Regions from separate parts of the Homo sapiens genome. Here regions 2 and 3 are each linked to region 1. The links come from fine-mapping of genetic effects on gene expression. A gene starts in region 1. Each other region holds a variant in brackets. All regions are shown on one strand. Distances are between the middles of the regions. Region 1 holds the start of GTF3C4 (general transcription factor IIIC subunit 4). Region 2 has its middle 37 kb from the start of GTF3C4. Region 3 has its middle 29 kb from the start of GTF3C4.

What was found. PIP is the estimated chance that this variant, and not a neighbour inherited with it, causes the effect.
Region 2: its variant is the best candidate, but not a certain one, in a credible set for the expression of GTF3C4 in whole blood (TOPMed, PIP 0.75).
Region 3: its variant is the best candidate, but not a certain one, in a credible set for the expression of GTF3C4 in whole blood (INTERVAL, PIP 0.87).

What each region holds. Positions count from the first base shown.
Region 1 is chr9:132,668,981-132,671,738 of GRCh38, reverse strand. GTF3C4 (general transcription factor IIIC subunit 4) reads right to left here and starts at 1,275. Exons shown (of 5, transcript NM_012204.4): 1 at 784-1,275. The coding sequence starts at 1,140. It overlaps DDX31 (DEAD-box helicase 31), which reads left to right and starts at 1,756. Exons shown (of 20, transcript NM_022779.9): 1 at 1,756-1,879. The coding sequence starts at 1,805. RefSeq lists silencers at 987-1,116, 1,537-1,686 and enhancers at 1,267-1,346, 1,032-1,899.
Region 2 is chr9:132,706,267-132,709,024 of GRCh38, reverse strand. No RefSeq gene overlaps it. Among named protein-coding and RNA genes, the nearest start is that of GTF3C4, 37 kb to the right of the region's middle. The variant AG/G (reference allele first, on the strand shown) is at 1,214.
Region 3 is chr9:132,697,817-132,700,574 of GRCh38, reverse strand. No RefSeq gene overlaps it. Among named protein-coding and RNA genes, the nearest start is that of GTF3C4, 29 kb to the right of the region's middle. The variant TTA/A (reference allele first, on the strand shown) is at 1,494.

The sequences.
Region 1 (2,758 bases):
GAATGTATGAATATACACTGACAGTTCACATGTAAGCGTACACCTCTATCAAGGATATATGGAAAGTTTTTACACCTCTAAGCAACTAAAAGGAACGCTATGGCTTACTACTTGACCTTGCGCTTGAAGTTTAAGATAGGTAGTTGTTTCGAATCTTTATTTTCATTCAACATCCCAAAGATGTTTAGCTAGTAAAGAAAAACTAAAGTACAAACCCCGAGATCCAGTATTTACCCGTTTGCCCAAGGAGAGGCGAGGACCATTCATAATAAAGTCACTGAAACAATTAAGACAATGGATGGGACCAGTTTTTCTTTTCTGAAGCTAAAGAGGCGCGAGAGGAGGACACACACAGTAGACAAAGCCAGCCAAGAACCTCGGAAAGTCGGCCCCAAACAATAGCAGCAACGACAGAGGCAGGCCCCGGGTTGGATCTACAGGGGGTGGAGTCTCAGAAAGCACCATCGAGTAACCCGCTCCATGTGCGGGCCCGACGGAGGGGCGAAGGAGGGGTTCCTGGGACTCAACTCCGGGAAGCCCCCTGGGTGTGTACCTGTGTTTGCGGCGGCGGGTGACCTGGGGAAACAGGGTGCAGACAGCTGCAGAGCTTTTCTTTTTTTTTTTTTAAGCTGTGGTAACCCTGGCTGCTTAATAAATCCCCAGCGCTCGGTGCGAAGAGGGAAATCCCCGGACAGAGTGTGGGATCGGATTCCCCTGGGACGGATGATGCGGCCGCGAGAGGGGGACAGGGGAAGACCCCAGGGATGGCGGGGGATGACTTACTTTGAGGAGACAGCTGTTGAGCGGTGCGGGCACCGAGGTGCGGTGGATAACCAGGTCCTGGCCCGGGTTGTGCACGTCGCAGATGAGCTCCAGCACAGCGATGCTGCGGGCCGTGGACACAGACACGCGGTGGTCCTCGGACCAAGCCAGCGGTTCCAGGCCGCTCACCGCATACTGCAGCTTCACGGCCGGCTCCCGCCGAGTCACCATGAGGCGGAATGCAGCGCTGGGCCCCGGGGCCGCGTCCGCTGCTGGCTCCTTCCCGCCCGCCTCGCCGCCCCCCTCTCCCTCCTCCTCCCCAGACGGCGCAGGCCCGTCGTCCGCGGGCCCCACCCGGGCCTGGTCGGCCGTGTTCATCTTCTCTCAGGTGCAGAGGTCGGACGCCCTGGCGCTCCACGCAGTCGCGCGACCACCTCCCGGACCGCCGCCGCCACCCCCAGCGCCCTCCGCGGCGGTTTTCTCCCCTCAGGCCCCGAGCGCCGCCGAGCCAAGAAGGACCCCGCCGTTGCCAGGCAACGCGGCCCTACCAGGTGGCCAAGGAACTGCCTGTCCAGAAAAAGGACAGCGAGCGGGGAGCCCCGAGGACCCCCTTTTCCCTGCCCAGGGATTGAGCTCCAGAGCCTGTTAGGGAGCTACCCAGACAGGCTTTAGTTCCTAAAGTGCTGAGGAAACGCACGGGGCGGTAAAGGGGAGGCTCGTCGGTGAGATGGCGCCGGATCTCGCTTCTCAGAGGCATTCAGAGAGCTTCCCCAGCGTGAACTCTCGGCCGAATGTAATTTTGCCAGGCCGCGAGGGACGCAGAGAGGGGCTGCCACCAGGCGGGGGCACGCGCGGTAGTCTTGTCCCTACCCGCCCGGTGCCGCCGTCCCCGGCTCCCCTCGGGACGAGTCCGTACAGCTGGAGCCGTTCCGGACCCGGAAGGGGCGGTGGCGCAGGGTCCTCGCGCGTCCCACGTGGGGTCCCGGGCCCAGCAGTCTGCGCACCGGGCTCGCTGCTGCACCACGCGTCACCCACGCAGACCATGGCAGCCGCCGACGGTTCGCTCTTCGACAACCCCAGGACGTTCTCCAGACGTCCCCCAGCCCAGGCGAGTCGGGTGAGTTCTGACCCGGCTTCAGCTCCGTCCCCACCCGCGGCCCGGCTGTGGGCGCGCCGCGAGCTGCAGCCGTGCCTTGGAGTCGGGTTTCGAGTCATTCACGGAGTTAAGCGGGAGAAAGACACCGGGCAGCTTCGGGACAAGTTGCGCCGAAACACGTGTCTCTAACCGGAACACCACCCGCAGGGATGCGCCTGGAAGCGGGGAGTGGAGCGGTGTGGAGGGGCGGGGAGCTGGCTCCTGCGCCTAGAAAAGTAAAGGAAGGAATTAGAGGCTGTTTCCCGTGGAAGGTAGGACCTGAAGTTCCGGCGCAAGTCCCAGGCCAAAGCTTAACTTCTCTAAGCCAGTTTCCTCGACTGAGTGCGGACTAAGCTCTGATTTTTTTTTTTATCTTGCCCACATTCCTGTCTGGGAAGAGTCATGCCCTACAAACCATAAATTCTCATCAGATGGCTTTCATTTAACCCTATATATCGTGACTTACTTTCCAAACTGGCTCTGGCCTAACATTATGTGACAAAGAAGAAAGTTAAAATATTACCCCTAAACATGTTTCTTTGCCACATTTTGAAATGGCTTTGCAAAGCTGTTCTTTGGGGGGGGCGGGCGGGGTGGACATTTGCATCTGCAAAGAATCTCTATTAACATAGCTAGATCTTTTTCTTCCAGGCCCTCCCAATCCTAAAGAGATTAAGAGTCTACCACCTTTCAAAGATCTGAATAGGAAACACTTGTCTGTTGTCTCTAAGGGCAGCCACTAAAGACTTGAAAAGAACCTTGGTCTCCACAATCTTTTATCTTAACCTGAGCATTTTCTTTGTATCCATCCCAGGTGTTTAGACAAACTCAACCGTCAACTAGAAAATGTTTAAATTTACC
Region 2 (2,758 bases), 37 kb before region 1:
GGGCCAGCCACGAGACGCCGCAGGTGCGCTACGGTGTGCGTCAGCGGCACCAGAGGAGCTCCTTCAGCCTGCAGATTTTGAGGCCCCCAGATTCTTGCCTTCCACGTGCAGACGGGCCGAGGCACCACTTTGAGAAACAGTTTCCAAGGATGAAGCTGCAAGCAAGGAGGGGCATGGAGCCGAGGGACTCGCCGGGGGTCCCAGCTGGAGTCCCTGGATTGACTCGCCGCTACCTCTTGTACTTCCCCGGGGTGTTCCAGGGGCTCTCGGAGCGCCGTATTGAAATCGATGTCCTCGGTGAGGATCCTAAGCGGGGGACCCAGGGTGGTAGATGTTACGTTTTCTCGAGAAAGAACGTCAGAGATGTTCCTAATATTGTCGAAAGCCTCCCTCTTATCCCCAGTTTCCTTCGCATGTTTTAGGAGAAAAGAGGGAAGGGAGGAAAAGGGAACAAAACCTGAAGACGGACACACAACCACCTCTGTCGTTAGCTGTGGAGGGCTGGGCTGTGGTCCTGGTGGGAACATGGCCCTTCAGCACCTGGGGAGAGGAGCTCGGAGTTCTGGGCTTTCCTCTTCCTTTAAAAGCTGTGTTGGAGGAGTCTGGTCTGTGGTGAAACTAAGCATCCCGGTTTGCCTGGGACCGAGGGAGCTCCCAGACATGGGCATTCCACTTTTCAAAGCAGGCCGGTTCTGGGAGAGCCAGGATGAGTTGGTCACACCCTGCCAGTGTGAGCGGATCCTGGAACCACAGGCCAGCTACTTTCAGGGTGGAGACATGCAGCCAAGCCTGGGGCAGGGCACCGTTGCGGTCCTCTACGTACATGGATGCTAGAGGAAGAAGAAGGGAGGAAGGAAGGAAAAGGCAGCAGATCCACAAGCCCCTGCCTTCTGCAGGCTCCCTCCAGCGCCCGCTTTTTCTTTCTTTCTTTCTTTCTTTTTTTTTTTTTTTTTTGAGACGGTGTCTCACTCTGTCCCCAGGCTGGAGTGCAGTGACGCGATCTCGGCTCACTGCAACCTCCGCCTCCCGGGTTCAATAAATTCTCCGGCCTCAGCCTCCCGAATAGCTGAGATTACAGGCACCCACCACCACACCCAAGTAATTTTTGTATTTTTAGTAGAGACGGGGTTTCATTCACCATGTTGGCCAGGCTGGTCTTGAACTCCTGACCTCGTGATCCGCCCGCCTTGGCCTCCCAAAGTGCTGGGATTAC[AG/G]GTAAGAACCACCGCACCTGGCCTGAGCACCCTCTTTTGACAAAGCTGAATATCGTGCCCACAGCCAAGAAGGATGGAGTCCAGCCAATGACAGCAGGTGGGGACTGAAGGGTGAATCTGGAGCTAAGTTAATCAATCAGTAAGCGGCTCATGTGTATTATTGATTTGTTCCTTTTTGTAGCTGAGCCACACACCGTTGTGTAGCTATTCTACATTTTGTTTCTATAGTCACCTATTGATGGATACTTGAGTTGTTTTTAGGTTTTGAGTATTGTGACTAAAACTGCTATGAATATTTGCACAATTTATTTTTGAGTATTCGTTTTGGATCCAGAAACCTTGCTAATGTCTCTTAATGCTAATAACTTATCAGTCGATTCTTTTATACTTTTTTCATACCCAATCATATTTTTTGTTTGTTTGTGACAGGGTCTCGCTCTGTCGCCCAGGCTGGAGTGCAATGGTGCCACTGTAGCTCACTGCAGCCTGAGCTCCTGGACTCAAGTGACCCTCCACCTCAGCCTCTCAAGTAGCTGGGACTACAGGTATGGACCACTATGCCTGGCTAATTTTTTTTTTTTTTTTTTTTTTTTGTGGAGATAGGATCTCCCTATGTTGCCCAGGCTACATATCATATTGACTGAGAATACGATATCTTTTTTCCAATTTTTTTTTTCTTTTTCCTAAGAGACAGGGTCTCGCTCAGTCTCCCAGGCTGGAGGGAGGTGGTGTGATCATGGTTCACTGCAGCCTCAAACTCCTGGCCTCAAGTGATGCTCCTGCCTCAGTCTCACAAAGCACTGGGATTACAGGTATGAGCCACGATGCCTGGCCCTTTTCCCCCAATCTTTATACCTTTCTCTCTCTCGCCTTATTGGAATGACCAGGACCTATAGTGCAATGTCGAGTAGAATAGATGTGTCTAGCTCCACTGGGTCTTCTGGGTAACATGGCCCAAGTGACAGGCCAGCTTGCATCCCAGCCTGGACCTGGAGTCCTCTCTTGCTACGGACCTCACACAAAGCTACCAGCCTTTTGAGTTATTCAGTAAGTGAGCCGGAGCTGGGTCCCTGGTAGAGGCTGCCAGAAGCTCTTTGCCTCTTTCTCAGTGGTAGGAAGTAAAAGGTGCAAGAACTTGTTTTTTGCCTTAAGGACAATGCCATGGCATGCCTTGGACCACTGGATCCATAAAAACTTCATTGTGATTACAGGACCCAGAATCATTGTAGTATTTTTCATCGACTTTCTGGCACACATATGCCCCACATTCAAGCAGTTGCCACTTTCCTGTTTCCCAAGTCCAGTTAGGATGCTGCCGTCGACATAACAGAGCAGCATGATGTTTTGTGGAGCGGAAAGACAAATGTCTTTGGATTATATTGTAATGAAGAGCAGACGAGTTTGGGTGGGGAAGAAATCGAGATCCAAAGGAACATACCCATTTATAAATATATGATCAACAAATGTAATTACTGATCAACAAAAAAATACCCTGAATGCCAGCAAGTGGCTAATGAGTTGTAGTGGATTTTTAGCTCTATTCA
Region 3 (2,758 bases), 29 kb before region 1:
ATGTACACATACACAATCATCTTAGAGCTTTCATTTTAGAATATTAGTCATGAGCTAGAAATACAAATTTATTCCTTTATAAAAGACAGTTAGAGCTAAATCATATTTCTGACAAAATTGGGATCTGTTCACATGACTAAACTTTATTTTTCCCAATAGATAATCTAATGAAAGCTGTGGACCAAAATTTGGGGTAAAGCAGTTTTCATGGCAGTTTGAATTTTTAAAAACCTCTTTCACCTTCCTCACCCCCACTTTTCAGTTTCAAATGAGGTTAGGGGTAAATTTTCAATGTTTACATTTTAGCTAGGACTGATGGAATTGAATAAGGAAAACATCTTCAAGTAGCCTTGAACTAGTAACAAATCTTTTTTTTTGGCCAGTCTGCTTTGCTTTATTAGTAAACACAGATGGTGAAGAATTTTAGCAGTTTTCCCCCACCCAGCAGATGTTTCTTTTTGGCTTCAGCATGGCAGAAAAAGCAAAATGTTTATGTTGGACAGAGATACTGCATATAATTGCTCAGAGCTCAAGATTTTGACTCGTTTGATCCAGGAGCCTAACTTTTATAAACATTTACCTAGTTCTTTTTATTTTCAGATTATTAATTTTTCAATTAAGTGTTCCATCACTGCACATAATTGCTAGTCAGTCAAATCTAAATGTATATTTCTAAAAGGTGTCTAGGTTACAATTTGTACACCAGTACAAATTACTGATGTAATTTGTAAAGCCATTCATTTAAAAGCCCTTTAAGACTACTACTTCCAGCTGGGCACTGTGGCTCACACCTGTAATCCCAGCACTTTGGGAGGCCGAAGTGGGAAGATCACCTGAGGTCAGGAGTTCAAAACCAGCCTGGCCAACATGGTGAAGCCCCATCTCTACTAAAAATACAAAAAATTAGCTGGGCATGGTGGCGGGCACCTGTAATCCCAGCTACTTGGGAGGCTGAGGCAGGAGAATCACTTGAACCCGGGAGGCAGAGGTTGCAGTGAGCCAAGATCGCACCATTAAACTCTAGCCTGGGCAACAAAAGTGAAGCTCCATCTCAAAAAAAAAAAAAAAAAAGACCATTACTTCCTTTTTTATTTAAAAAAAATCTTGGTTGGAATGCCATAAACTGAGTTTTAAATCAATATCAGTAGCACAGTCAGCAGATTCAACGGAGGCAGGGAAAAAAAGAATTTAGAAGACTCTACATGGTACTTCGATACTTCCAGGTTTTTTGAATCATGACCATTTGAGCTCTGAATTTTCCTTGATATAATTTTGCCTATCAGTTTAAACATGTGCACAAGAATGGGCCATAATATGTAGCTGGCTGGAGTCCCAGAAAAGCTGGCATGCCTTAATGTTTGAGAATGCCATTCTATTTCTTATCAATCTCTCAAGAGCAAAGAAAATCCTGTAAATCCTGTCAGGAAATGTCAAGCATTTACACCAGTGTTTTAGATGGTGGTGACTTCCCTAGTGGGTTTTTTTTTTTTTTT[TTA/A]GACGAAGTCTTGCTCTGTTGCCAGGCTGGAATGCAGTGGCACGATCTTGGCTCACTGCAACCTCCGCTTCCCAGGTTCAAGTGATTCTCCTGCCTCAGCCTCCTGAGTAACTGGGACTACAGGCACGCACCACCACACCCAGCTAATTTTTATATTTTTAGTAGAGATGGGGTTTTACCATGTTGGCCAGGATGGTCTCGATCTCTTGACCTCGTGATCTGCATGCCTCGGCCTCCCAAAGTGCTGGGATTACAGGCGTGAGCCATCATGCCCGGCCTTCCCTAGTGGTTTTTAATTAGCTATCCCATACCCACCATTTAGAAATTTATTTTGGCTCTCAGAAGATTTTCAGAAACAAGCAAGGGAAGAGAGTCAAACCAAATCAAAAGAGACCAAGACAAGAGTGTTCATAAAAATTTTAACCCAGGCATTCAGATCAAACAAAACATTAAAATAGGTACACAGACCACACTAAAAATATATTCACCAGAAAAGACCTACCTCACAGACAGAATGTAAATTCTGCAGAATATAGAGTTGGGTACCCAAAGCTCAGTGTTCAGAGAGACACTTGTCTTTATACCAAAAAGGGCTTACCAGAAGACAAAAAGTCTTTTATCATCTGAGGAGGGAATGTATGGTCCTTTATTAAGGTGACCTTATCTAAACAAGATCCCAAATAATATTTTAAAAGCCTCTACCAAAAAGTGGGAGGCTCAGCCTGGGAAAAGACTCACCAGGGCAGAAAAGGTGAGCTGCAGAAGCAGAGAGCACAAAAGGCTCACATGAGTACTGCACACTGGTTCCCATAATCGCTGATCTGATAGTGATCTTTTTTTTGGGTCTCACTTCTGACACCATATATGTCAGCATAAATATGAGATAGGCTCTCTGAAAGAAAAATATTTGGGAATAGAGCATTGCAGTGGGGATACATGCACCATAGTAAACTAAGTGTGTTTTCAGGGAGGTAAAGGAAGACATAGATTTTTAAGGAAAAAATGAGGATTACATAATTGTTTTGAAATAATTATCCTTGGCTACAAAGGTCAATAATAAGCGTAATGCACGTCTGAGGTTGGACAGGCAGTTGCTGGGCAGATATCTTTGAATAAGTATTTTTTTGTATAACGTTGCAATGGAGTTTGTGCAAGGTTGTGGTTTCTGTTGAGTATTTTATGATACTTTTTGTTATCAGGCATACAAGCATGAGAATCCTGTCTTTATGACCCTCCCCCAGCTCTATTTGTCAGGGTACTGTT